Linked DNA regions of Homo sapiens: regions 1, 2, 4 and 5 are each linked to region 3. The links come from fine-mapping of genetic effects on gene expression. A gene starts in region 3. Each other region holds a variant in brackets. All regions are shown on one strand. Distances are from middle to middle. Region 1 overlaps CSNK1G2 (casein kinase 1 gamma 2). Region 2 overlaps BSG (basigin (Ok blood group)). Region 3 holds the start of POLR2E (RNA polymerase II, I and III subunit E). Region 4 holds the start of ARHGAP45 (Rho GTPase activating protein 45). Region 5 overlaps ARID3A (AT-rich interaction domain 3A).

What was found. PIP is the estimated chance that this variant, and not a neighbour inherited with it, causes the effect.
Region 1: its variant is fine-mapped to the expression of POLR2E in aorta (GTEx, PIP 0.99).
Region 2: its variant is fine-mapped to the expression of POLR2E in sigmoid colon (GTEx, PIP 0.98).
Region 4: its variant is fine-mapped to the expression of POLR2E in whole blood (TOPMed, PIP 0.97).
Region 5: its variant is fine-mapped to the expression of POLR2E in pancreas (GTEx, PIP 0.98).

What each region holds. Positions count from the first base shown.
Region 1 is chr19:1,944,959-1,950,754 of GRCh38, forward strand. The region is part of intron 1 of CSNK1G2 (casein kinase 1 gamma 2); the gene reads left to right. Among named protein-coding and RNA genes, the nearest start is that of CSNK1G2, 6.7 kb to the left of the region's middle. RefSeq lists an enhancer at 2,041-2,761. The variant C/T (reference allele first, on the strand shown) is at 3,347.
Region 2 is chr19:574,835-579,834 of GRCh38, forward strand. BSG (basigin (Ok blood group)) reads left to right here. Exons shown (of 9, transcript NM_001728.4): 2 at 2,940-3,287; 3 at 4,666-4,822. Among named protein-coding and RNA genes, the nearest start is that of BSG, 4.7 kb to the left of the region's middle. The variant G/C (reference allele first, on the strand shown) is at 2,323.
Region 3 is chr19:1,093,427-1,098,426 of GRCh38, forward strand. POLR2E (RNA polymerase II, I and III subunit E) reads right to left here and starts at 1,949. Exons shown (of 8, transcript NM_002695.5): 1 at 1,833-1,949; 2 at 478-652. The coding sequence starts at 1,889. RefSeq lists enhancers at 600-1,135, 1,893-1,982.
Region 4 is chr19:1,063,851-1,069,646 of GRCh38, forward strand. It overlaps ABCA7 (ATP binding cassette subfamily A member 7), which reads left to right. Exons shown (of 47, transcript NM_019112.4): 44 at 1-13; 45 at 311-403; 46 at 1,081-1,321; 47 at 1,420-1,722. The coding sequence ends at 1,575. It overlaps ARHGAP45 (Rho GTPase activating protein 45), which reads left to right and starts at 3,317. Exons shown (of 23, transcript NM_012292.5): 1 at 3,317-3,645; 2 at 4,564-4,894. The coding sequence starts at 3,556. RefSeq lists enhancers at 1-173, 2,760-3,266, 5,457-5,616 and silencers at 1,237-1,286, 3,127-3,886, 4,197-4,436, 4,967-5,066. The variant G/C (reference allele first, on the strand shown) is at 3,087.
Region 5 is chr19:952,925-958,720 of GRCh38, forward strand. All of the region lies in intron 3 of ARID3A (AT-rich interaction domain 3A), which reads left to right. Among named protein-coding and RNA genes, the nearest start is that of WDR18, 29 kb to the right of the region's middle. RefSeq lists enhancers at 1-142, 143-844, 2,249-2,950, 3,653-4,354 and silencers at 826-1,034, 2,240-2,499, 4,730-4,922. The variant C/G (reference allele first, on the strand shown) is at 3,304.

The DNA of each region.
Region 1 (5,796 bases), 850 kb after region 3:
CCCACATCAACTTGTCACCAGCAAGGGCATGGGACAAAGCAGGACATGCCCCGGGTGGCCAGCGTGAGCTAGCTGTGCCCAGGAGCATTGCCCATGCTGTCCCCCAGGCACTGTCCTGAAGCCCTGCTGGGTTCTGAGTCCTCCAGGCTCCGCGGCCCCTTCTCGCCCTGCCCAGAGTCTCTGGCCACCACCGCTGCTTGGGGCCCTGCACCAGCCTGTGCGCCCGCAAGGTTGCCAGGGCCCCTCTGCAGGTGCAGCGTGAGCTGTGTCCTGGGCCCACAGGGGAGCCGCTTCTCAGACCCCCGGGCTGGCCCCAGGCTCCCCCGGCAGCACTCAGGCGGCCCTGGCCCCCGGTGCGGCTGACTGTTCGGGGCACGCGTCTGAGGTGTGGGGATCATCTCCCCCTTGCTCAGAGCCCCCAACGTGTCCCCTGCACAGGGAATCGGGGCAGCCCCCTGCCAGCCCTGCCCAGGGATCCCTCCTGTCACCCTCAGGCGTGCTCCTGGGTGGCCCAGCGGCCTCCCTGCACCGTGAGGCCCGAGACAGTTTCGCGTGACATCATGTTGAAAACAGCCAGCTCTGGCCGGGCGCGGGGGCTCCCACCTGTCATCCCAGCACTTTGGGAGGCCGAGGTGGGCGGATCACCTGAGGTCAGGAGTTCAAGACTAGTCTGGCCAACATGGCAAAACCCCATCTCCACTAAAAATACAAAAATTAGCCGGGCGTGGTGGCGTGCGCCCATAATCCCAGCTACTCGAGAGGCTGAGGCAGGAGAATCACTTGAACCCGGGAGGTGGAGGTTTTAGTGAGCCAGGATCGCGCCACTGCACTCCAGCCTGGGCAACAGAGCGAGACTCCGTCTCAAAAAAAAAAAAAAAAAAAGCTGGTTCTCCCTTGATGCGCATCTGCTGAACTTCTGGGGCACGCTGGGGTAGAGCAGTGGGTCCCTCCCTGGAGAGGCCATGGGGTGAGGACCGAAGCTGTGGGTGCCAAGTGGGGCAGGCAGCCCAGTGGAGTGGGGCAAGAGACTCTGGTCTGGCCGGCCTGACCCGTGGGGTATGACTCTTGTTACGGCAGATTCCATCTAGGAGCGGAGGCCACGCGTATGTTCCCGGGAGAGGTGGGAAGTGCATCCCGTGGCCTATCCCGGGGAGGTCACTCCCATTCCATACCTGCAGGGGGAGCTAGCTGCCTCACGTCTGTGTCTCAGGCCGCGCAGAGGAGGGGGCGCAGGTGAGGGCAGCGGGAAGAAAGACTGCAAGAGGCTCGGGGGTCACGGGCCAGGGCTGGCCCATCACTATTTATTCGTTTATTTATTTATTTATTTATTTTTTATTTATTTATTTTTTTTAAGATGGAGTCTTGCACTGTTGCCCAGGCTGGAGTGCAGTGGCCCGATCTCAGCTCACTGCAAGCTCCGCCTCTTGGGTTCACGCCATTCTCCTGCCTCAGCTTCCCGAGTAGCTGGGACTACAGGCGACCGCCACCACGCCTGGCTAGTTTTTTGTACTTTTAGTAGAGACGGGGTTTCACCGTGTTAGCCAGGATGGTCTCGATCTCCTGACCTCGTGATCTGCCCGCCTCGGCCTCCCAAAGTGCTGGGATTACAGGCGTGAGCCACCGCGCCCGGCTATTTATTTATTTATTTATTATTATTATTATTATTTTCTTTGAGATGGAGTCTCGCTCTGTTGCCCAGGCTAGAGTGCAGTGGCGCAATCTTGGCTCACTGCAAGCTCCGCCTCCCGGGTTCACGCCATTCTCCTGCCTCAGCCTCTCCAGCAGCTGGGACTACAGGTACATGCCATCACGCCTGGCTAATTTTTGTATTTTTAGTACAGACGGGGTTTCACTGTGTTAGCCAGGATGGTCTCCATCTCCTGACCTTGTGATCTGCCCGCCTCGGCCTCTCAAAGTGCTGGGATTACAGGCATGAGCCACTGTGCCCGGCCTATTCATTTATTTATTTAGAGACAGAGTCTCGCTCTGTTGTCCATGTTGGCCAAGCTGGTCTTGAACTCCTGACCTCAGGTGATCCACCTGCTTCAGCCTCCCTCATAGCTGGGATTACAGGCGTGAGCCACCGTGCCCGGCCCTATCGCTATTTAAAAGGCAGAGAAAATCTTAGAGGTTTTTTTATTGTCACCAGCGGTGTTTCGTTGATGCGTAATTGCCTTTGGAGGCTTGAAAAAAGTTGTGCTTAAAGGTAATCCCTCAATTATCTGGAAACTTCCACCCTCCAGAGTGAGGCACCCCAAGTCCTGGTCTGGATTCGTGGACAGAGTCCCTGCCTGTGAGGCCTGATGGCCAGTCCTCTCGCCTTGGCCGTGGTGCTTCAGGCCCTGTTGCAGGTGGGACCCGCCCTCCTTAGGGACCTTGTTTCCCAGGTGATGCTCATGTAATCTGCGGTGACCTCTGCCCCTTCCCATCTGACCTCTGTCCCCAGGAAAGATGGCAGGCGTGCGAGGGCTCATCCTGTCCGCGGCAGTTGTGCCCCTCGGGCTTCTGCTCCAGTGGTCCTGGGGCAGGGCAGCTGGCGCTGATGCCCAGGCTCTGCCTGGGGACAGTTCCCAGGACGGGAGCCTGAGGGCAGCGCACGGGACCAGCGTGAGGACACGGACTGGCCCGTGTCTGCCTCTGACTTGCTGGGTGTGCCTTTGAGTTCCTCTGAGGGTGGGTGCGCCGAGGGGGATCCAGCTGGGCCCTGGCCACGTGCAGGCCAGCCAGAGCCCTGGAGCCTGCAGGTGGGCTGGGACAGGGCTTGCGACCGCAGGGGTGGTGTGCGTTTGCGCTGGCGTCTGCACAGGTGTGTGCGTGCTGTGCCATCACGCTGGTCAGGCCTGTACGCCGTGGAGAGGGGCGCTGTGTGGGGCTCGCTGCCTGAGCCCTGGGTGGACCGTGGCTGCCCCATGAGTTGTCGGGGACCTCCGCTGCCCCTTGGACCTCGCCCGCGGCCCTGGGCAATGGGTGTGGTGACGTCCTGGGGCCCCCATGAGTCAGCTCGTCCTCGTGCCCGGGCACTGGCCTCTCCTTCCTGTGGGCGCACAGCCCCGGTTCCTCTGAAAGCTTCGTGGGCCGGGACCCGGGATGAGCTGGTTAAACCCTGGCCCTGTGAGCAGGAGGTGTGGCTTCGGGGGGCGGCCCCGCCCTGGGCTCAGACTTGATCCTGCACCGGAGGGAGCCATTCTGGAAGGCCGCTGCCCCGGGCCCTGTCCCTCCCCCTCTCATCCCCAGGGTGCTGGCCAGAGCCGGGCTCACAGCGTTTCTTAAAATTAACGATCCCGGCCGGGCGTGGTGGCTCACGCCTGTAATCCCAGCACTTTGGGAGGCCGAGGCGGGTGGATCA[C/T]GAGGTCAGGAGATCGAGACCATCCTGGCTAACACAGTGAAACCCCGTCTCTACTAAAAAGACAAAAAATTAGCCGGGCGCGGTGGCAGGCGCCTGTACTCCCAGCTACTCGGGAGGCTGAGGGAGGAGAATGGCATGAACCCGGGAGGCGAAGCTTACAGTGAGCTGAGACCGCGCCATTGCACTCCATGTGGGCGACAGAGTGAGACTCCGTCTCAAAAAAAAAAAAAAAAAACGCAAAAAAAAAAAAGATCCCGTCACACTGACCCAGCTCACTGTTCTCTTACCAGCCTTATTTCGGTGTGGTCCTTAGAGCATGAGCCACTTTTTTTTGCTGGGAACATAATCCACGTTTGGTAAAATTCGGCAACGTGTGCACGCAAGTGGTTTTTGTACAGCTGACCCTTGAGCAGGGTGGGGTTTAGGGCAGCAGCCCCTCATGTAGCAAAATACCCTCGTATAGCTTTCGAGTCCTCCAGATGCCGCTGCCGACAGCCTGCTGGTGACCAGAGGCCTCGGGAGGACACGTGGTCCGCGCACACATACCTCGTGTGTTGTGTTAGGTGCTGCGTTCTCACAGTGAGGGAAGCTGGAGACCAGAACATGTGGAGAAAAGCAGAAGGAAGAGAAACCCTGTTTGCTCTTCACGCAGTGGAAGTAATGCTCATGGAAGCCTCTGTCCTCGTCGTGTTCACGTTGAGGGCTGAGGAAGGGAGGGTGGGTCTCGCTGTCTCGGGTGGCAGAGCGGGAAGGAGCCAGGAGAGGCTGGCGCCCTCAGGGCAACCTTTATTGAAAAAATCCACGTCAGAGTGGACCTGTCAGTTCAAACCTGCCGTGGTCAAGGCTCCTCTGTGAGTGCAGCCACCACCTGTAATTCCAGAGTGTTCTCATCACCTGCAAAGGGAGCCCTGGCCCCATCAGCAGCCAGCCTTCCACACCATCCTTTCCAGAACCTTCCCACCTTCCCAAATTGAGACGCTGTCTTCGTGAAACGTTCACTCCCGTGCCCTCTCCAGCCCCTGGCACCCCCATCCTACTTTCTGGCTCTGTGACTCTGAGGGCTCCAGGGACCTCCTAGGGGTGGAATCACACGGGATGAGGCCTGGTGTGTTTGGCGTCTCTCACTGAGTGTGACACCCTCGGTGCATCCGCGCCATGGCCCGCGTCCGAGTCTCGCTCCTGTTCGTGGCTGAGTCGTGTTCCGGCGTGTGGGTGGCCACGTGTTTATTTCTGTGATAGATGTTTGCATGGCATCCGCGTGTGGCTGCTGCGAGCACCCGTGTCCGGTTCCCGTGTGGCTGCGTGATTCTTCTGTCAGGTGGACTTCTAGCGGTGGAACCGCTGGTCACAGGGCCACTCCCGGTTGGACCATTTGAGGAGCCGCAGACGGCCATCCATACCTGCACTGTTTGGGTCCCCTGCCGGGTTTTGGGGACTGGATCTCTGCACAGCGACGACCACTCCCCTCTTCCGGTGACTTGGTTTCTCCTGTCCTTCGGCCCGATGCTTCTCTGGCCTGCAGGGCATCAGGGACCCTGCTGTCCTGATCCCCATGCCGTCTAGAAAGCCAGGGGTCCTGCATGTGCCCGGTGTCCCCACTGCCTTGTCAGGCACAGGGCCAGATCCTGCACCCTGTGACGAGCACGGCCAGTGGGACAGACAGATGGATGTGCTGCCCGTGACCTTCGCCACAGCGAGTTCAGAGGCCGGAGGCATCCAGTGTCCACAGAGTGACCGGTAGGCCCCAGCCCCACAGGATCATCGAGGTGGCCCTGGCCTTTCGAGGCCACAAAAATCAACGTTTATTTTTATTTATTTTATTTATTTATATATTTATTTATATATTTATTTATGAGACGGAGTCTCGCTCTGTCCCCCAGGCTGGAGTGTGGTGGCGTGAGCTCTGCTCACTGCAAGCTCTGCCTCCCGGGTTCACACCATTCTCCTGCCTCAGCCTCCCGAGTAGCTGGGACTACAGGCACCCGCCACCACACCCAGCTAATTGTTTGTATTTTTAGTAGAGACGGGGTTTCACTGTGTTTGCCAGGATGGTCTTGATCTCCAGACCTCGTGATCCGCCCTCCTCGGCCTCCCAAAGTGCTGGGATTACAGGCGTGAGCCACCGCGCCTGGCCATCAATGTTTATTTTTAAGTAGCAAAAGAGAACTCAGCAGTGTTGGAGAACTTGAACATTACAGCAACATCTGAAGAAGATGTTCTTTCACAAACCTCAGATTCCAGGAGATGAGCACCGTCCGCTTTCCAGAGAAAATTGTCTGAGGCCTCTGGGAGACAGGAGGGGGTGCACTTAGAAACAGCCAAGGCCTCCTTCCATGTTGGGACGGACGGGCCTTCCTGGGCTGGCCCGGCCTAAATCTGCTGCCGCCCACCGAACACCAAGGCACCTTCTCGTGCCCCAGAGGCCACCAGCACCCGTCCCCCTGCCTCCC
Region 2 (5,000 bases), 520 kb before region 3:
AGCTCTCTGGGGAGACACAGATAGGAGCCCATGGGTGAGGTGAGCGCGGAAGATAAGCCGCCCCCGCCAGCCCTGTGGAAACCCAGCCAGGCCTGACTGGGTTTCAAGCACAGCACGAGGTTCCCACATTGAGCTAATTTGGACAGCCAAGTGGGTGAAAGACCTTTGGTCTCTCCCTGCTGGGTAGGGTGGTTCACAGTTTTGTTCCTTTTGTGCATTTGTGCAGGAGACTGAGAAGGGTTTCTTCTGAGCAGAAAGCTTAGCCTGGGGCTTACTGGCCAGAGCTGCCTGCAGCCTGGGAAGCAGGTGGAGTCTGCAGTGCTGGCAGCGCCGCCGTGCAGCGGTGTAGCCGTGTGTGCGCGTGTGTGTGTGTGGTGAGAAACCCCACTTTTGCTGGGGACTGACTCGTGAAGACCACAAGGTCTGGGCAACACAGCCTTGGCCCGTGTGGGGTGGACACTGCTGTTTGCTCTGTGAATTCGTGACTGTGTTTGCCTCTCCTGAAACTTGCTTCAGGGGCGTCTGCGGGTTGGTGGGGCACAGCCGGGTGGGGTGAGTGCCCAAGGTTGGCCGTCCGCGTCTCCTGTGGGCTTGTCGGGGACCGGAGGGCCGGGGTGTGCTAGCTGGGTCCCGAGGGTGGAGGGCTTCACCCCCGAGCCTCAGATGAGAGGAGTGGGAGTGCCTGGCTGCGGCCGGTGGGGGTGGGTGGGGGAGGTGCCCGAGGCTGCTTCCCAGAGCTGTTCTCGCTGGCTGCTGTCTGAGCACTGGGGTGGGTGGGGAGGAGGGCGGGTGGGGGCGGGCAGCCTTATCCTGCGGGGCTGCTTGTGTACAAGTACCACGCGGCCTGCCTGGCCCTGAGCCCTGGGCAAGGAGGCGGAGGCTGTTTTTAGATGAAGGTGACTTTACTTGAGAACATGGGTTACGTCTCATGTGGCCAGAATCGAATTCTAACCTTTCTGGGGCTGTGGCCGAGGGTCAGGCGCCGTCCCTCCTCCTGCTGCTCATGGGTGGAGGCTCCTGGTGCGGCGGGCGAGATGGGGTGGTCCGTGGGGTGGGGGCGCTCTGCATTGTCCCCGAGGAGCCTCTATGGAGGCTTTCTCTTCCGGACGCCCCCCCACCCCCAGTGACACGTCAATACACAGACACCAGCATCATCAGCATCCGGAGGGACACAGGGTTGTTCCATCCAAAGCCTTTTGGTCCCTTTGGGAGCGATGCTGCCCGCTGAGAAGCTGGCGGACCCAGCGGGAGCACCGGGACCGGTGCAGATGGCGCCTGGGAGCCCGGGACTCCTGGAAAGGTGGCTGGGGGCAGCTCGGCTGCGGGCCCCACCTGGTCCTCCTCACTTTCCTGTGTGCCCTGCCCTGCCTGGAGGTGGGGTGAGGTGAGTCAGGGGCCAGCCCTCTCCTAGCACCCCTGGGTGAGGAGGATGTGGAGCCCAGCCCTGCAGGTCTGGAGGATGAGGAGAGGGGCTGCTGCAGGGCAGGAAGGAGCTTGCCAGCTGGGCAGCCTCTGGCTGTGCTTCCTGCCCTGACTCACCTCGCCCAGCTCTGCACATAGCTGCCAGTGTTGCAGTCTGGGAAATCTTAACTCCCAAGAAATGTAGGTTACCAGGAGGAGATCCCTTTGTGAAAATGGCACTGCCAGCCAGGCGCGGTGGCTCACGCCTGTAATCCCAGCACTTTGGGAGGCCCAAGAGGGTGGATCACGAGGTCAGGGGTTCAATACCAGCCTGGCCAAAATGGTGAAACCCCGTCTCTACTAAAAATACAAAATATTAGCTGAGTGTGGTGGCAGGCACCTGTAATCCCAGCTACTTGGGAGGCTGAGGCAGGAGAATTGCTTGAACCCGGGAGGCAGAGGTTGCGGTGAGCTGAGATTACACCACTGCTGAACAGAGTGAGACTCTGTCTCAAAAAAAAAAAAAAGAAGAAGAGGAGAAAGAAAATGGCGCTGCCAAAACTTGTCAACTGCGCCTGCCCAGAGCTCACCTGAGGTGCTCAGACGTGAACATTCCTGTCCCCGTGGCCTTGGGGGCCGTGACCTGTGCACTGCCACGCAGCCTCGGAGCCGTGTGCACGCATATGCACGTGTGTATGTGTTGTGTGTGTTTGCAGACGTGTGTCCTTGTGTGTGTGTGTGTGTTGTAGCGGTGCCTGGGGAGTCTGACCTCAGAAGGTGCTGTGGGGAGGGCTGCAAGGTCCTGGCGGGAGGAGGCACTCCCCACGCTTCCCCTTGGGCTGGGCTGTTCCTGGCAGGCGAGTGCTAGGCACAGTGTGAGGTTCTGTGTGGATTCTGCTGTGCTCCTTGGCAGCTCTGGGG[G/C]CCTTCCCTTGCATTTCGAAGGAAGGGGAGGCGTGTGGCTGGAGGTGAGAGGCCCTGAGGCCCTGCCTGGCTCCCAGCTTCCCAAATCCGCCTCTCTCTGGGTCGCCGCCCTCAGAGATTGCTGAGGACACGAGCTTTCCACCCACGGGCTGTCCTAACGGAGCCGGGCTAGGGGCTTCTGGACAGAGGCCGCCTGCCCCTTTGGGCTTTGGGGTTTGTTTTTCTCAGCAGCTCACCCGGGTCTCTGGGGTCAGGGTATCGGGCAGAAGTCAGAGGACGGTGCGCTTGGGACCTGAGCTCTGGGCAGCCCTCGGGGCTCAGGACTCCTGGCTCTTCTGCCCAGTTTCATGTGTTTTGTGTTTTGAAACCACGTGTGGTCCCACAGTTGTGCCCTCAGAAGCCGCCGTGGCTGCCGTGAGGTAGCAGTGGACGGGACGCCCACGGTCTTTCCCATGCCATGCTGTTTCCAGCCGGGCCCCATCACTCTCCCACAAGCTGAAAGGAAGTGGCTTCTCCACCAGCCCTGGCTGGGAGTCCTGTGGGCGAGGCCTTCCCCAGGAGCTGCCCTCCCAAGTGCCCCAGGCACTAACAAGACCCCACGCGTGCTCTCCCCACAGCCGGCTTCGTCCAGGCGCCGCTGTCCCAGCAGAGGTGGGTGGGGGGCAGTGTGGAGCTGCACTGCGAGGCCGTGGGCAGCCCGGTGCCCGAGATCCAGTGGTGGTTTGAAGGGCAGGGTCCCAACGACACCTGCTCCCAGCTCTGGGACGGCGCCCGGCTGGACCGCGTCCACATCCACGCCACCTACCACCAGCACGCGGCCAGCACCATCTCCATCGACACGCTCGTGGAGGAGGACACGGGCACTTACGAGTGCCGGGCCAGCAACGACCCGGATCGCAACCACCTGACCCGGGCGCCCAGGGTCAAGTGGGTCCGCGCCCAGGCAGTCGTGCTAGTCCTGGAACGTGAGTGGCGGGCACCTCCCTCCCCGCCTCCCTCAGTTTCCCTCCTGTGCCGCTCGCCTCCCGGCTCCTGCTCAGTAGAACCCAGACGCCTCCTCCCCTCTCCGTCCCGCTGTGCCCCGTTGGGCCCACCGCCTGGACGGAGGGGCCCGGACCTGAAGGGGGTGGGCTCGCCGCCTGACCACCAGCGCTGGGCGGCCTGGCTCGGGGCAGGCAGGGCTCTGCCCTCCAGCAGGTGGGTCCTCGTCCTCCCCTCGACCCTCGTGCCATCCGTTCCGTCGTTTCTGCTTCCCCGGGCGCCTGCCCGGCTCCCTCCCTGAGCGTCCATACTGCAAGCCTGAGGGGCCCTCCAAGCTCAGCCCAGGCTTGCAGGTCTCAGAACCTTCTGTGTCCTTCGCAGCATCTCGTTCTAAGGGATTTTCAAATTTCAATTCCTAGCGGGAATATTGTAAACTAACCAAGAACCAAGAGATTTGCTTGGTTGGGGATTGGCAGAAGAACCGGGGTGCTCCCAGCACTGCTGGAGTGCCGTCAGCCTGGGGCTGGGGGGATGTGGGGCCACCTGAGTGCCTCCTAGAGAAGGGCACGGGAGCCTTGGCCGGGGGTGCTGTGGCTATTTTTTTTTTTTTTCCTGGAGATGGAGTCTTGCTGTTCCCAGGTGGAGTGTGGTGGCACAATCTCGGCTCACTGCAACTTCCGCCTCCCGGGTTCAAGCGATTCTTCTGCCTCAGCCTCCTGAGTAGCTGGGATTACAGGCATGAGCCAACATGCCCAGCTAATTTTTTGTATTTTTAGAAGAGACGGGGTTTCACCGTGTTAGCCAGGATGGTCTCGATCTCCCGACCTCGAGATCCACCCGCCTTGGCCTCCCAAAGTGCTGGGATTACAGGCGTGAGCCTCCGCGCCCGGCCACCACCGCGCCCAGCTGGCTACGTTTTTAGAAAAGAATTTCCAGTTTGTGCTGGGGCTGCTACAAGAGCTCGATGCCCTGGTCCCTGCTCAGGGACGTGGGTGGGTGCCTTGTCTGTCCCCACACCCTGGTCCCAGCCTCGTGTGTCTCTGGGCAGGAACATCGCCAGGCGGGGCCTCTGGGTTCCCAGCGCCTTAGCCCAGGGCCCGCCAGCTGCCAGCGAAGGGTGCCTTCCCGAAGGGGGTGCCTTCCCGAAGGGGCCTCCTCAGCAGGCGCTGGGCTCTTCCCTTCCCGGAGGCGTGGCCAGAAGTTCCCCTTGGGCCTCCGGTCCTCGGGGCGTAAGGGCCACGGTGTATTTTTGGGATGAAAACCAGTCCTTCCCGGGGAGGAGCCGCAGGTTCCTGGGGGTCAGGCAGGCAGCGCGGGCCGTGCTCCTCCACTCTGCTGACCGCGTCTCGCCGGGCCTTGCAGCCGGCACAGTCTTCACTACCGTAGAAGACCTTGGCTCCAAGATACTCCTCACCTGCTCCTTGAATGACAGCGCCACAGAGGTCACAGGGCACCGCTGGCTGAAGGGGGGCGTGGTGCTGAAGGAGGACGCGCTGCCCGGCCAGAAAACGGAGTTCAAGTGAGTGCCTGACCACGCCATGCCGCCACCTGCCCCTTCTCACGGCTCTCTTGCCGCCAGCGGCCTGTGGTCCGTGAGAACAAAAGACCGGTCGGCAGGCTTGATCCAGGCGGAAGTTAGGGACCAGCTCCGCGCAGACCCCCAGAGGGAAACCCCAGGGAGGGGTCTGAGGGGCGTC
Region 3 (5,000 bases):
ACAAGCTCGAGGGACGAGTACCGGACGCTGACAGGGGAGAGGGGGCATGGGGTGCGGAGGAATGGGCTGGGGCGGGCAGGGGCCGCAGCTCACAAGGAGGCTGCGCTGACCCAGACGGGGCCTCCTGGGCCAGGCCAAGAAGCTGGAAGTGCACCCAACGGCCAGGATGGGGGAGCCAAGGGACACTAGGGCAAAGGACATGGGGGGCTGGGGGTGAGTGGGGAGGCCCTTGTGACTCTCCTCGTTGGCAGGAAGAGAGAAGGGGACTGAGAGGGAAACTAGAAAGAAGCTGAGCATGAGAGGGGTCAGAGATCAACGGCATCACCCACAGCAAGGAAGGGGAGGGGAGTTTTCCTCCCAGACTGGGCAGAGAGACAAATGCTGGGCACCAGGCGAGTGGGGGTGGGTGCTAGCGACCGGCTCCTCGGCAGGTGCTCTGGTGGCTTCACCGGAACTCCCCCGGGACCCGCTGCTCACCTGGAAAGAACACAAACATCTGGTCGGTGGGGTCATCGTTGTGGGCCACCAGCACGGTGAGGTCCGTGCGCCGCGGCCGCCCCTCACTCGGCTTGTCCCCAGATTGGGCTTTGAACTCCTCCAGGGTCTGGTCAAGCTCGTCCTGGGTCACCAGATAGCCACGGTCGTGGCACAGCTGCAGAGAGAAAGAACCAGCTGACCCCAGGGCAGAGAGAGGAAGGCGGCCAAAGCTCGTGACCCGGAAGTCAGACCTGCGGCTGCTGCAGAGGACAGAGGTGAACAGCAAACGGGATGAACACTCACTGTGTGCTCCATGACAGCCACCCCGGCCCCCACAGCCTCACACCACAGGATGGGACCAGTATGATCCTGAGAGGCTCCCAGAGATGTCCAGCCTTGACCAAGACCGTCTGTCCACCCAGCCTCACAGAAACCTGGCAGGGAGCAAAGCCCTCCAAACCACTTTGCAGAGCTACCCTAAAGGCAGGGACAAAGGCGGGGCGCGGAGGCTCACGCCCGTGATCCCAGTACTTAGGGAGGCTGAGGCAGGAGGGTTGCTGGAGGCCAGTTCAAGGATGCAGTGAGCTATGATTGCACCACTGCACTGCAGCCTGGGCGACAGAATGAAACCCTATCTCTTAAAAAAAAAAAATGACAGGGACCGAAACAGATGTGACTTCAGGCTGACAATGTTTGAGGATCGGAGAAAGAAGAATCAGGCTGCGGGGGGCTTCGCTGAGGACAAGGGCAAAGGGTGGGAAGCAAGACAAAGCAAAAGCTCTCAAACGGCCCCAATGGCTGAGGCAATACCCTGAACCGCAGGTCCTCAGGCCTGTGCCCGGCTTCCAAACCGGACTCGACCCAGTGGCCTCCATCTGCCCCAGACCCCAAGGCACGGGTTCCGAGCTCCACGTCCCCATCGAAAGCCCCAGCTCGCCCGCTGCTTCCCAACCACCAACTCTGCCAGCCTCGGATGCTGAAGACTCCATGGGGTTCAGGACGCAAGGACAAATAGCGACGCTGAATCACAGAGAAGGGCAGAGTCTGGGGGCGCCCCCCGTCCCCATTCGCGGCTTCCTCCTCCTCTCGCCGCCACGCGCGCCGCACCAGCCCAAGCCGCCCACCCACCCCTAAGCACCGCACCCAGACGTCTCGAAACCCCCTCCCTTCCCCGCTGCCGGCTCAGGTCGGGTCCAGCGCCTGGTATCCCCGGCGACCTCTGGGCCTCCCGTATCGGCCCGGCCCTTCATCGCTGCTGCTCCGACGAGAGTACGAGGAGACGCCGTGCTCGACCCCACCTCGGGCCCCTACACCCGCCGCCCGCGCCCCCGCCCCCAACACCAGGCGCGGCTCACCTGCATGATGGTCTTGCGGATTTTCCAGAGCCGGTACGTCTCCTCCTCGTCGTCCATGGCAGCCTCCGCCGCCGCCGCCGCTCGCACCCCTTCTCCGCGCGAGAACCCGCGCGGACTGCGCCTGCGCCGAATCCGAATCAGGCCCCCTCCGCCTAACCCCGCCCCGCGCTGGTCTGTCGTCGGCGAATGCCTGAATGCAGCAACGTCTCGGATCGGCAGCGCCAAGGGCAGCCCGAGCCTTACGAGAGCGGCAGTTGGCTGAGCGAGTCTCTCGCCTCCGTAGTTCTCGTGTGTCTTTGGCCGCACAGCCTCTCGGGAGTTGTAGTTTCCGTTCAACTCCCACCTTGGAGCAACAGTTTAGAATCCCACGAGGCGGGGGCGAAGTGTGAGCGGGGAAACTGAGGCCTGGATGGGGTCAAGGGGCAGCTCGGCTCCTAGGGATGGTCTGGGAGCCTAGTGGGAACTCTATAAATATTTGTGCATCAAACTGTACAGGGTTTCCTCCATTGGCTCCTGGCCAGGTCAGGGTTAATTCCCTTGGGCCTCAGTTTCCCTACCTGTGCAATGGCAATAAAGTGTCCCTACTTTAGACGGTTAACTGAGAGTCTTAGGCATCTCTCTAGGTGCTTATTAAGTCCCCTCACCTCTGTCCTCTCCCCTGAGCGCCACCAGCCTAGCCTGGGTATCTCCCCAGCCTAGCCTGGGTATCTCCCCACCCCAGACTCTTCCTGTCTTTGCAAACCTCCTCACTTCCCCAGGTTCACGGAGAACCCCAGCCCAACACTTCCTGTGTGCAGGCTATCAGTAACTTATTCAGTGATGCATTCGTTAATTCAACATTTACTCAGCAACCTACAGTGATGGTGAATAAAACAGGCCAAGTATCCCTTGCATTCAGATAAAGACAGGATTTAGTAAAATATAATAAATAACGTGGCCGGGCGCGGTGGCTCATGCCTATAATCCCAGCACTTTGGGAGGCTGAGGCGGGCAGAGCATGAGATCAGGAGTTCAAGACCATCCTGGCTAACACGGTGAAACCCCGTCTCTACTAAAAATACAAAAAATTAGCTGGGCCAGGTGGCAGGTGCCTGTAGTCTCAGCTACTTAGGAGGCTAAGGCAGGAGAATCTCGTGAACCTGTAAGGTGGAGGTTTCAGTGAGCCAAGATCGTGCCACTGCACTCCAGCCTGGACAACAGAGCAAGACTCTGTCTCAAAAATAAAATGAAATGAAATAAAATAAAATAAATAACAACGTTAGAAAGTGACAAAGCTACGGAAGAAGAAAGAGCAGGGAGGCTAAGTGACATGGGGAGAATGGGAGAACTGCAGTATCACATGGGGAGGTCAGGGAATACAGTGAGGATAGATTCAAGCAAAAATCCCATTAGCAGTGGTGGCTCATCACTGTAATCCCAGCACTTTGGGTGGCCGAGGCAGGCAGAGCATGAGATCAGGAGTTCCAGACCAGCTTGGCCAACATGGTGAAACCCTGTCTCTACTAAAAATACAAAAATTAGCCAGGTTTGGTGGTGGGTGCCTGTACTCCCAGTTACTCGGGAGGCTGAGGCAGGAGAATCACTTGAACCCGGGAGGCGGAGGTTGCAGTGAGCCGAGATCGCACCACTGCACTCCAGCCTGGGTGACAGAGCAAGACTCCATCGAGAAAAAAAAAAAAAAATCCCATTGGGCGCGATAGCTCACACCTGTAATCCCAGCACTTTGGGAAGCTGAGAGGGGAGGATCCCTTTGTTGTAGTTTTGTAATTTTTAGTTGTAAGTCACGGACTTTTTTACACTGATATTTGAGATTCTTTTTGGGGGGCTGTCAGGGGCTACTTTTTTTTTTTTTCCTGACACGGAATCTCGCTCTGTCCCCCAGGCTGGAGTGCAGTGGCAGGATCTCGGCTCACTGCAAGCTCCACCTCCCGGGTTCACGCCATTCTTCTGCCTCAGCCTCCCGAGTAGCTGGGACTACAGGCACCTGCCACCACGCCCGGCTAATTTTTTGTATTTTTAGTAGAGACGGGGTTTCACCGTGTTAGCCAGGATGGTCTCCATCTCCTGCCCTCATGATCCGCCCGCCTCGGCCTCCCAAAGTGCTGGGATTACAGGTGTGAGCCACCCCGCCCGGTCTGTGCAGGCTTTCTTATCTAACTACCTAACTTTTCTTTCTCACCTTGAGGCCAGGAGTTTGAGACAAGCCTAGGCAACATAGGAAGACCCCATTTCTTTTTTGTTGTTGTTGTTGTTTTTTGAGACCGAGTCTCGCTCTGTTGCCCAGGCTGGAGTACAGTGGCATAATCTCAGCTCACTGCAGCCTCCGCCTCCTGGGTTTAAAGGATTCTCCTGCCTTGGCCTCCCGAGTAGCTGGGATTACAGGCGTGAGCCACCACACCTGGCTAATTTTTTTGTATTTTTGGTAGAGATGGGGTTTCACCATGTTAGCCAGGCTGGTCTTGAACTTCTGACCTCAGATCATCTGCTTGCCTCGGCCTTCCGAAGTGCTGAGATTACAGGCGTGAGCCACCGCACCCGGCCAGGAAGACCCCATTTCTACAAAAAAATTTAAAAATTAGCTGGGCGTGGTGGGCGCACCTGTAGTCCCAGTTACTCGGGAGGCTGAGGTGGGAAGATCTAGGATCGCCTGAGCCCAGCGGTTGAGGCTGCAGTGAGCTGTGATTGCGCCACTGCACTCTAGCCTGGGCGACAGAGCAAGACACTGTCTCCAAACAAACAGAAAACAAACAAAAACCAGAAGAGGAGAGGGAGGAAACCTGGGGTTGCCTGGGGATAGCTGTATCAGGCAGACAGCACAGCCAGGATAGAGGCTCTGGGGCTGTGCCTCACCTGGAGTGTTCCTGGCAGGGAAGGGGCAGGAGGGGGTCAGAGGGCAAGGTGGGGCAGGTCCCATGAAGCCTTGCTGGTCAGGGTAAAATGTCTGGAGCTGCTGTGTTGGGAAATGACTGTTGGGAGCCAGGGCAGAAGCAAGAGACCAGGGAGGGAGTGGGAAGGCAAACTTGCCACAGGTTGGGGTGGCTCCAACTACGGTAGGGGCAAGCACAGAGCGGGGAGGGTGCCACAGGGCGAGAAAAAGAGGGAGAAAGGGAACAAAGCTGTCCCTGTGAGCAGTGAAAAGAGGGGTGGGAGGGTGGAGGCGTGTAGGTC
Region 4 (5,796 bases), 29 kb before region 3:
TCACCTCCCATAGGTGGGCCGGGCTCTGATGCCCTGGGCTGTGGTTAAGGTGATCCAGGCCTGGAGAGAGAGCCCCAAAGCACAAGGCCACAGGGGATGGGGGGTCCTGGCCCTAGTGGGGCGAGGGCGCCAGGCCCCGGGGTGTAAGGACACACAGAGGTGGGACGCGGCGCCGGGATCAGAACGGTCTGGGGAAGAGTGGGGAGATGTCCACACCAGAAGGGTGGCCCAGGCCGGGGGAAGCAGGCAGTGTGGCGCCAGGCACAGGTGGCCCCGGCCTCACGGAGCTCGTGGTGCCGGGTCCCGACAGCATGGAGGAGTGTGAAGCGCTCTGCTCGCGCCTGGCCATCATGGTGAATGGGCGGTTCCGCTGCCTGGGCAGCCCGCAACATCTCAAGGGCAGGTGAGCCGGCGCGGCCTCCAGGCAGGTGTGGGGTGAGGGTGGGCACGTAGGTAGGCTCAGGGGAGAGGCCAGACGTAGAGCCGGGTGAGGAAAGTTTGGCTCCAACTGGAGAGATGGCCAAGGCTTTAGATTGTCCTGCAGGGGTGACTGAGGGGGCGAGACAGGCTGGGGTGTGCTGGGGGCGCAGGACCAGGAGGCGTGAGCCGGGGGCTCTGGGTGGATTTAGAAGACACAATCAGGTGTGCGTTGGAGTAGGTGCAGCCTGGAGAGGTGAGGGTGGATTGATGGGTGGAGTTAGGGGAGGGCCTGGTTAGTGGGCGGGGCCATAGGAAAGTGGGGCGGGGGTATTTATTGTGTGGGCGGGGGTAGAGTGCAAGGGCGAAAGAGGAGTGTCCGAAAAAGGAGTCAAGTGGGGTGATAGCTTCGAGAGCAACCTGGGCAACCTAGGGAGACCCCATCTCTATAAAAAATTTAAAAATTAGCTGGACATGGTGGTGTGTGCCTGTGGTCTCAGCTACGCGGGCGGGGGGTGGCGGGGGACTGAGACGGGAGGACCACTTGATCGCTAGGGTAGTACAAGTATGGGGCGGGGCCAGAGAGTATTAGGGGCTGGAGGGTGAGCTGAGGTGGGACCTGGGAAAGGCCCGATCCGGTAGCCCTGGCCCCACTCACTGCAGATTCGCGGCGGGTCACACACTGACCCTGCGGGTGCCCGCCGCAAGGTCCCAGCCGGCAGCGGCCTTCGTGGCGGCCGAGTTCCCTGGGGCGGAGCTGCGCGAGGCACATGGAGGCCGCCTGCGCTTCCAGCTGCCGCCGGGAGGGCGCTGCGCCCTGGCGCGCGTCTTTGGAGAGCTGGCGGTGCACGGCGCAGAGCACGGCGTGGAGGACTTTTCCGTGAGCCAGACGATGCTGGAGGAGGTGATCACGGCGCCGGGGTCGGGCTGGGGGAGGCAGGCTGGGGGCCAGGCCCGTGGGCTGACCGTCCCTCTTGTCCCCTCTGGGCTGCCCACCGCTAGGTATTCTTGTACTTCTCCAAGGACCAGGGGAAGGACGAGGACACCGAAGAGCAGAAGGAGGCAGGAGTGGGAGTGGACCCCGCGCCAGGCCTGCAGCACCCCAAACGCGTCAGCCAGTTCCTCGATGACCCTAGCACTGCCGAGACTGTGCTCTGAGCCTCCCTCCCCTGCGGGGCCGCGGGGAGGCCCTGGGAATGGCAAGGGCAAGGTAGAGTGCCTAGGAGCCCTGGACTCAGGCTGGCAGAGGGGCTGGTGCCCTGGAGAAAATAAAGAGAAGGCTGGAGAGAAGCCGTGGTGGTGAAACCGTGTGCATGTGTGTCCTTGAGCCAGGCTGCACACATGTCCACACAGCTGCCTGCACATGCGTCTGGATATGGCTGGCCCCTTGCAAGCTGAGTGTGCACATACGGGCCAAGTGGCGATTCATAGGACACAGGTGTGAGCGTGCCTACAGCTGACCGGATCCCAGCTGTAAATGCCTCTGTGGCCAGCCCAGGAGTTGGGGATGTGAGTGCGGGCCTCATAAGGGCCTGGTCACACCGTCCCTGTCCCCACGTCCCTGCGTGCCTATGTGGGGCTGGCGCCTAAGGGCGGTACCTGTAAGTGCCTGGCCATAAAGTGGGGATGAGGTCAGGACTCAGGAATGTCCTGGGAAGCTTACAGGAGCCCGGTGTCCCGGAGCACAGGCCAGGGCCGGGCCAGAAGCCCATCCGACATCCAGCTGACCCTCACCCTCTGACCCCAGCCCTCAGCGCCATGAGTCGGGGGCAAAGAGTTCTCAAGGGTCTGCTGGGCTGGGTTTGCACTTGGACCTGGGCCTGGAGAGCCAGACTTGGAGCAAGGGGCTGTGGCCTTCATGTCCTGTGCCCCAGAGATCTGCCCCTCCCACCCGAGGTAGGTGGGAATGGGGTTTGGGAAAGGAAAGAGGTTGGGGTTTTGGGATTGGGGGTGGGGTTCTGGAAGGGGACAGCAGGGAGACTTGGGGAGGGGGGAGAGAGTTCACACTGCGGGGTGGGGGTTGGGGGAAGGTAGGAGGCTGGGATCTGTATGCCTGCAGATGCCCCAGCTCTTGGCCAATGCCGCCTCAGGCTGTTATCAGCAACGGGTGCCTGCGTCCTGCTGCCCAGCACGTCCGGTGGTCCAGAGTCACTGGAATGCAGCTTGGGAGGCGGGGCTGGGGACCTTAGCTAAGGGCAGGTCTGGGGCAACATGATATGGCCCACAGGGCTGCTGAGAGGTAACCAGGTGTCCTCAGCATATTCTGCCGATGGTGGGGTCCACACCACACTTTGGGGACCCCTGTGCAGGCAGCCCAGGACCAGGTGGACGTGGGGACCCAGACGGACGTGGGGACCCAGACGGACAGGGCCCGGTAACCTGGATTGTTCTGACTTCCTGGACGTCTTTGCCCCCAGGGTTTCGGTTCTGGGCCTCAGTTTCCCCACCTGTCCTCGACCTGACCCACTTCACGGGGCTGCAGGGCGGGTGATGGGGGGGACCCTACTCTGCCCGGCCCTGCTGGGGCCCGGCCACACCCTAGGGTCTGCAGGAGAGGCGGTGGAGCGGGCTTGCCTTCAGGGAAAAGGGGGCTGCAGGGGCGCAGCTTCGGCCTGTGCGTGTGTCTGGGGTCTGAGGGCGAGGCTCCAGGGGCTTGGTGGCGTCTGAGC[G/C]CGTGTGGAGGTCCGGGTCTCTGCGTGTCATCGTGCACGTGTCTGTGCACGCCCACTCGCGTCCGGGAGTGAGAGTCAGCGCCCTGCAGTCGGCCGCCCCGTGCCCGCCAGCGTCAGGCAGGGGCTCCCGGTCCCACCCCGCGAGCGGCGCGGCTCCGAGCTCCCGAAGGCGGAAGCGGGGGGCGCGGCCCGGGGCTGGGGGCGGGGCCTGCGACCTCACCTTCGCGCCCACTCCGCAGAGCCGCAGGCTGAGGCCGGGAAGGGTCGGGGGCGAGGCCGCGTCGCCGCCTCCCCGAAGCCTTTTCCTGTTGGGGGGAGGGCCCGCCAGTGACGGCCGGGCCTGTCACGTGGGCCTGACAGCTGGGGAGGGGGTGGCCGGCGACAATGTGGTCCCGAAGCGGCCAGCGCCGGGAGCTGCAGCGCTGAGACCCCCAGCCCGCCCCCTCGGGCTCCCGGCCGGGGCCCCATCATGTTCTCCAGGAAGAAACGAGAGCTCATGAAAACCCCTTCCATCTCGAAAAAGAACCGCGCGGGAAGCCCCAGCCCGCAGCCCTCGGGGGTGAGTGGAGCCCGGGTGAGACCCGGAGCTGACGCCGGGCCGCAGGGGGACAGGGACCCGCCCTGTGCTCGGGGCTCATGCTGGGGCGGCGGCTGGGGGCTCGTGCCAGCTACAGCCCCTACCGGGCGGGACGGCAGGGGCCACAGCAGAGAGGCCGGGACCCCGGCATTCAGCTCACGGTAGGGACCCTGGGAGTGGTGGCCGCCTCCCTCCACTCCATCCAGGGCTGGCCGCGGGGCCCAGGGAGCAGGAAGGGAGGGTGCCGGGTTGGGACGATGTTGTGTTTGGGCCGCTGCAGGTTGGGGGCTTAGGCAATCTGGGGGCTCTAGGGGCCGTTGAGATGGGAGGGCTGTGGCCTGGCCATTGGGCTGAAGGTTGACCGGGCAGCAGATCCTCTAATGGGATCCACCAGGTTCAGAGGTTGGGGAGTGTCCCCAGGCCTGGGGTGTCTACAAAGCTGGGGGGGGGGTCTACAGAGCTTGGGGGTCCGGGATGTCTACAAGGCCTGGGGCTGCCCATAGGCTCTGGGGTTCCATGGACCTTTAGGGGACAGACAGAGTCAGAAGTGTGTTCACTTAAAGCACCTGCGTTGTAGGAGCCTGAGGGGGGCTTGAAGGGCTGAGGACCCTCCCCACCCCCACCAGGAAGTGGGGACCCCCCTCCCGCGCCTCCCCGCAGGCCCCGCCCCGGCTGTGGTTTGGGCAAGGACCGTTGTTTGTGAAAGCTCTAGGGAAGAGGATGTTGGGTAACAGGTGGGGGGGTACACTACCAAATCTCGGCCCTGTGACCTCTGGCCTTTGACCCCTGTGGGGTCAGGGTGATGGTGGCCCTCCACAGCCCCACTTCATTTCTGGGGAAACTGAGGCCGTGTCCAGGCCGGAAAATCCCTTTAACGAGCTCCCCTCGGACCTGCCCAAGGAGCTGCCCAGGAAGGATGGGGCTGACGCGGTGTTCCCCGGACCAAGCCTGGAGCCGCCCGCTGGGTCCTCCGGCGTCAAGGCCACAGGGACCCTCAAGCGGCCCACCAGCCTGAGCCGCCACGCCAGCGCGGCTGGCTTCCCCCTGTCGGGTGCTGCCTCCTGGACACTGGGCCGGAGCCACCGGAGCCCACTGACAGCCGCCAGCCCGGGCGAGCTGCCCACCGAGGGTGCCGGCCCGGACGTCGTCGAGGACATCTCCCATCTGCTGGCGGACGTGGCCCGCTTCGCTGAGGGCCTTGAGAAACTTAAGGAGTGTGTGTTGCGTGACGGTGAGAGCCACGGGGACACCGAGGCCTGGGTGGAAGACAGAGCCAGACCCAAGGGAGGATGGAGGGAGGGACTTGGGGAGGCTCAGAAGGGAGGGAGGCTCAGATGGCAGGGAGGGCTGTGTGGAAGAGGCCATGACAGCTAAGGCTCTGAGGGATGTGTAGGAGTTTGGTGGGGGAGTCCCTGAGCGTACACTGGCTCAAGAGGGTGCCCACTTTATTTTTTTTAAAGGATCTGATGGCAATTAGGAGGGAAAGGCAGAGGAAATGTCCCATGCACAGGCTCAGAAACACGGAAACAGAGAATGCATTTGGGGGCCAAGGTGTGGGGTGCCGCTGGTGTAGGATGAAGGCATGACAACGCCAGGCAGAAGGGCAATGGGGAGCCATAGAAGGTGTTAGAGCACAGGACAGATGGGGGCAGATCTGTGTCTTGGAATGAAGCAAACTGGGGGTTGGCTGAGGTCTGGGTGGAGAGAGATTCAGGAGGCATGGCGAGGGGCAGGATGGGGTCATCAGGCGGCGGAGGTGCTGGGACCCAGCGGCCTGCAGGCCGGCAGTTCCGTTTTCTCCTCCACGCGGCCGCTGACAGCCCTGCTTCCTGCCGAGTTATTTTCATCTGCTTCCTGTTTGTCCCTGGCAGCCCAGGCGGGCACCTCATGTGCTGCCTTCAGCCCCCGGCTCCTCCCAGAAACCACAGTGCCAGGGTCATGCCAGGCGCTCTGATCTGCTCCCAGCAGCCGCCCATTTTACAGATGACGAAACTAAGTCTCTAGTGAGGCCCTGACCCCTGGCTCACCCAGCCAGGGCAGGGCAGAGCCAGGACTGGACCTCAAGTGGTGGAGTGGCCTCTGCACCTTCAGGGCACTAGTTGGGGAAGGCCCGGTCCCCACTGGGAGGAGTGG
Region 5 (5,796 bases), 140 kb before region 3:
CTGTGACCTTGGGCACTGCCCACCTGTGACCTTGGGCACTGCTGGGGGAGGGGCCGCATGTGCTGGCCCCGGCCACCCTCTTCTGTCCTGGCCAACCCTTTCCTTGGATTTTCTGCAAACCTCTGGGGTCTTTTTCTGACCTTCCTCCCACCTCCCAGAGCCGGTGGGCTGGGGAGGGGAGTCCTGAGCCGGGGCTGAACTCCCTGGTTCTAGGGGTGGTCCGGGCAGCCGGGGAACCCCCTCCCCACTCCCAGGTGGCCCTGGGACTTATCTTGCACCCTGTCCGCCAGCAGACTCCACTGACCCCCTCGGAGCTGTCGTTTCTCTGGGAGGTGGGGTGGAGAAAATCATCAACGTTTCGCCACAAACAAGAATTTCCTGTTTGCCCTTCCAGGGCTGGGGGGTGGCGGTTATCTCACTTTTTCCTCCCCTCCCCCACCGGCGCCACCACCCGAGCCCCGCCACCCTCTCTCCTCACAGGTGCCCCCTCCAGAGGGGCCCGGTCCTCATCAGGTGGGGGCGGCACCTCCCACCCCCCCAGGCCTCCCACACCCCCCCCCGTGCAGAGCCGGGGGAGTGTCAGGGTCGGGGGCCACAGCGTCTTCCCTCCATCCCCAGAGCCACGGAGTGTGTCTTGCAGATCCGTGTAACGGGGCTCGGGCGTGCAACCTTCTGGGAAGAAAACCAAAGAGGAATGAAGGGGTCAGAGGCTGAGGGGGGCTGTGGAGGGGGCTCTGTCAGAAGGCGACGTTTGGGCGGGAAGGCAGGAGCCGAGCGGGGACCCGGGAGCTGCATTCCAGGCAGAAGGAACAGCGCCGCGGAGGCCCTGGGGTGGGGGCCTGTGCGTTTTACATAGAAAGACGCCAAGGCTGGGTCTGGGGGCTCCTGCCTGTAATCCCAGCGCTGTGGGAGGCTGAGGCAGGAGGATCACTTAAGGCCAGGAGTTTGAGACCAGCCTGAGCAATATAGCAAGACCTTGTCTCTATAGAAATACAAAAATTAGCCGAGCGTGGTGGTGCCTGCCTGTGGTCTCATTGGCTCAGGAGACCGAGGTGGGAGGTGGAGGCTGCAGTGAGCTAGGGTCTCACCACTGCACTCCAGCCTGAGTGACAGAGCGAGACCCTGTCCCTAAATAGGGCAGCTCAAGGCCGGGGCGGAGGGAGCAGGAGAGGGCAGGGAGGGGCCAGGAGGGTGCTGGGGGGCCCTGGGAGGCTGTGGCCGAGGGAGGGTCATGCTCAGATGTCTGTGAAAAACCCCCCACCCCACCCAACTGCTGAGTGGGGAAGGGTCTGGCAGGAGGGGCGGCCGGGGGACCTGGAGGTGGCTTGGCTCCACGCGCTCTGTGCCTCGGTTTCCCCTTCTCCGAAGCAGGTGGTGCTGGGAAGGGGAGACGATGGGCCCAGCCTTGGTAATTAGGGGTCCACACCTTCCATCCCCCACAGCAGGAAGTGGACAGAGGGGAGGGGACCCCCTCAGGGAAAGACCCCCAGGCCTGCCCTGTGGCCCCGCATTTTCTTGGCATCGCACTGAGAAAGCAAGTTCATTTAACATGCATTTATTAGGCAACTGCTGTGTGCCCGATTTTGGATGCTGGCAACAAGATAAGAATTCCGCATGTTCCAGGGCAGACAGACGAGAGACAAATGCGTGAATCCACACAGCTGGGGCCATGCGAGGGCTGGGGGTCCAAGGGGGGCCGTGAGCCAGAAACCCCGTGAGGCCGGTGGTCGGTAAAGGTGGGTGGGAGCAGAGCATCTGCGGAGGTGATATCGGTCCTGGGAGGACGGGGGGCTCCCCTCCAGGGAGGGAATGACCACAGGGGACCCAGACGAAGGGAAGGGGCTGAGAAGGCCTCGCAGACGGGAGGAACAGCCGGGGCGAAGGCGGCCGCTCGGGGCTGATGGGGGGCGGTGGGGGTCTCAGCGGAGGGGCACCTTCAGAACTTCACACCCGACCCCTCCCGTGATCAGAGCAGGCCCCAGGGAGGTCAGGCGGCGTGGAGGGGAGTGCGGGCCGCTTATCTCGGCCCTCAGCCCCTGGGGAGGGAGTTTCCGGAGATTTTGCCCAATCTCCAGCCTGGGTTTAGGGCTCCTGTGGGTGTGTGGTGGGCGGCTGATTTCAGAGCTTTCTGGTTGACGTTTCAGAGGGGCAGGGTTTCGGCCACAGAACCCAGGTGAGAACCAAGGCCTGGGTTTGCCATGGGGTGTGCTGTGGCCCAGCAGTTCAACCCGGGATCTGGCCCACAAGGGGGGCCTGGACACCGCCATGGGCAGCCTGGACACCGTCCCCTGCTTTCCCATCCCTGGGGCCTCGGCCAGCTGGCCAGGGCGGGGCGCCCCCCACAGGGGAGCGGAACCGGGGGCCAGAGACCCATAAAGCCCAGGCGGCCTTTACTGCTGGCTTTGTTGCTGGCTGCCCACAGCAACGGCCATTAGAGCCGCCTCCCCCGCCAGCAGCTGGGGCCCCCGCAGGTCCTCCCTTTACTGCCACGCATCAGTGCCCCGGCCCCACAGGGGTCTGACCGTGCCTCGCCACCGGCCCAGTTCGCCCACCATTTGGCCTGGGAGTTAATGGCTCCCCTCTCCAACCCCAACCTTGGCTGGCTGTACATGGGGCAGCTGATTGCTGCCTGGCGCCTCGGTTTCCCCATCCGGGATGTGAGGGTAGCTGGGGCGCCAGGTGCTTGGGGTAAAGCTGCTGTGTTTTCTCACACACTCTATTTGAGAGATGGGGAAACTGAGGCAGGAGGTGCGGTGAGGTTTCTTGTAGGGGCTGTGCCAGGGAAGGGGGGGTCCAGGCAGGGTAGACCCCGTAATACCGGGTCAGAATCTCAGAGGAGAGGACCTTCCGCTCGCCCTGGAAGGGCCCAAGGTGTGCTGGCCTCTACGTGCGGTTCTTAGCCGGGGGGCTGCGTAACGAAGGACCTCAAACCGCGGGCGTAAAACAAACGAAACCTGTTCTCCCTCCGTCCTGGAGCCCAGAGTCCAAAATCGAGGCGTCCGCAGGGCTGCGCTCCCTCCAGGGGCTGCAGGAGGAGCCTTCCGCCTCTCCCAGCTCCTGGGGGCTCCAGGAGTCCCTTGACATGTGGCCGGCCTCTGTCTCTGTGCGACCGTCTCCAGTGCCCACCGGCCTTCACTGTGACTTTTTCTCAATTTGATCACGTCTGCAAAGGCCCTTTTTCCAAATAACGTCTCGTTCTGAGGTTCTGGGCCGATGTGAATTTGGGTGGGGGATGGCGTTCACCCCAGGACAGCCCCAGCGGTGAAGTCCTCCCCATTCCAGTACCTGCTGCCTCAGGCGTTT[C/G]CCTGGCAAGCTCGTCCTGTCCCCCTCTCCGCCCTGTCCCCCTCTCCGCCCTGCCCGGCTCACTTTTGCAGCTGAGAAAATCAAGGTTCAAGTAACGAGCATTTATTAGGCAACTGCTGTGTGCTCGGCTGATTCCAGACTCTGGGAACAAAACAGACTAAACCCCAGATACACTCCTAGATCCGTGACTCGGTGATGGACGGGGTCTCGGAGGAAGAACGTGGAGGGGAGGGGGCGGCAGCCGGGCCGGGGTCAGAGGACGAGGCCGGGCGTGTGGCCATGTGTGCGTGCCTGTGCTCATGGGACCCACCGGCCCGGCCAGCCGGGTCTACCTGAGGGCCCCACACCCCTCAGGCAGCTGAAGGGGAAAGGGCCTCCCCGGCCACCATAAATCAGCGCAGGAATGCAGGCTGGCCAGTCTGGCGCTGGCCGGGTTGGGGCGGAGACAAAGACCAGGCAGCTGGACCTCGGGCAGCCTCGACCACCCAGGGCAGAGGTCAGGACTCCTGGCTGCCCCCCCAGCCCCTTCCCGGAAGGCCTCACTGGGCCTCCAATACACAGACGGGGAAACTGAGGCCCAGAGAGGGGCAGGACGGCTGCAGGGTGATGGGGCCTTTGGCCGGCCTCCCCAGCACCTGGGATGTCCCCGCAGCAGCAGGGGCTGGGCGTGGGTCTCCTTCTGGGCCCTAATGACCGATCATCCCAGCTGAGGCCTAATTGGTGGTTTCAAGGCTCCCCACTGCCCAGCCAGCCACATTCCCCCGAGCTTAATTGGCAGCCTGGTATTTGTCGCAGCTCCTCCTCGGCAAATTGGCCCCCGCCTGAACTCCGCTTTCTAATTATCCCTGCCGGCTTTCCCCCACCCTGCCCGCCCGAACCTGTGGGTGGGGGGGGGCGCTGGGGGACCTCCTGGCTCCTTGTACCCCAGACGGAGCCTCTTTCCCCTCTGGAAGACGTTCCGGGGCCTGGTGATCTTCTTCCTCCCCAGCCACCACCCTGGCAGGCAGAGGCGGTCGGTGGCTCATTTCATAGCTGGAGGCTGAGACTCCAGGCTCCAGGTGCGGGGAAGCCAGCAGGAGACAGGAGGACCGGGATGGGAAGCAGGGCGGGGCTCTGGGCCAAGTCCCCAGCAGCCCCCAGGCTCTGGTCCCGCACTCGCCGCTGTGTCTCAGTTTCCTCACCTGCAAAGCAGAGCCAGTTCTCGGAACAAATGCGCTCCCGTCCGACCCTCAGGACAGCCCCGGGAGGCATGCTGGTGAATTTTTGCAGCGATTTGCTGTGTGAACTCAGGCAGGCACTGTCCTAGGGTAAATTGTGTCCCCCAAAGAAAAGGTGGAGGGCGGTGGCTCCCGCCTGTGACCCCAGCACTTTGAGAAGGCAACACGTGAGGATCGAGGGAGCCCAGGAGGTCGAGACCAGCCAGGGCAACATAGAAAGACCCATCTCTACAAAAGAAAATGTAAAAACTTAGCCGGGTGTGATGGCGAGTGCCTGTGGTCCCAGCCACTTGGGCAGCTGAGGCAGGAGAATCCCTTGAGCCCAGGAGGTTGAGGCTGCAGTGAGCTATGATTGCGCCACTGCACTCCAGGCTGGGCAACAGAGTGAGACCCTGTCTCCAAAAACAAACAAAAAAAAGACTTTGGGAGGCTGTGGCAGGCGGATCACTTGAGGTCAGGAGTTCAAGACCAGCCTCGCCAAATAGTGAAACCCTGTCTCTACCCAAAAAATACAAAAATTAGCTGGGCATAGTGGCAGGTGCCTGTAATCCCAGCTACTCAGGAGGCTGAGGGGGGAGAATTGCTTGAGCCCCGGAGACAGAGGTTGCAGCGAGCTGAGATTGCGCCATTGCACTCCAGCCTGGGCGACAGAGCGAGACTCCATCTAAAAATAATAATAATAAAAATTAAAATTAAAAAAAAAAATAGGCTGGGCGCAGTGGCTCATGCCCATAATCCCAGCACTTTAGGAGACTGAGGCAGTCGGATCACGAGGTCAGGAGACCATCCTGGCCAAATGGTGAAACTCCGTCTCTACTAAAAATACAAAAAAATTAGCCGGGCGTGGTGGCGGGCGCCTGTAGTCCCAGCTACTCCAAGAGGCTGAGGCAGGAGAATGGCGTGAACCCGGGAGGTGGAGCTTGCAGTGGGCCAAGATCGCGCCACTGCACTCCAGCCTGGGCGACAGAGCGAGACTCCATCTCAAAAAAAAAAAAAAAAAAGAAGAAAGAAAAAGAAAAGAAGAGGACAGGTTCAAGCACTGGATTCCCAGTACCTGTGACAGGACCTCATTTGGAAACGGGGGAACTTACTGACATACAATCACGTGTTGACACTTTGGTCAACCTCAGACCGCAGATGGGACGGTGGTCCCACAGGATTAGAATTCCATATTTCTAGTGGCTCACGCCTGTAATCCCAGCACTTTGGGAGGCCGAGGCGGGCGGATCACGAGGTCAGGAGATCGAGACCATCCTGGCTAACACGGTGAAGCCCC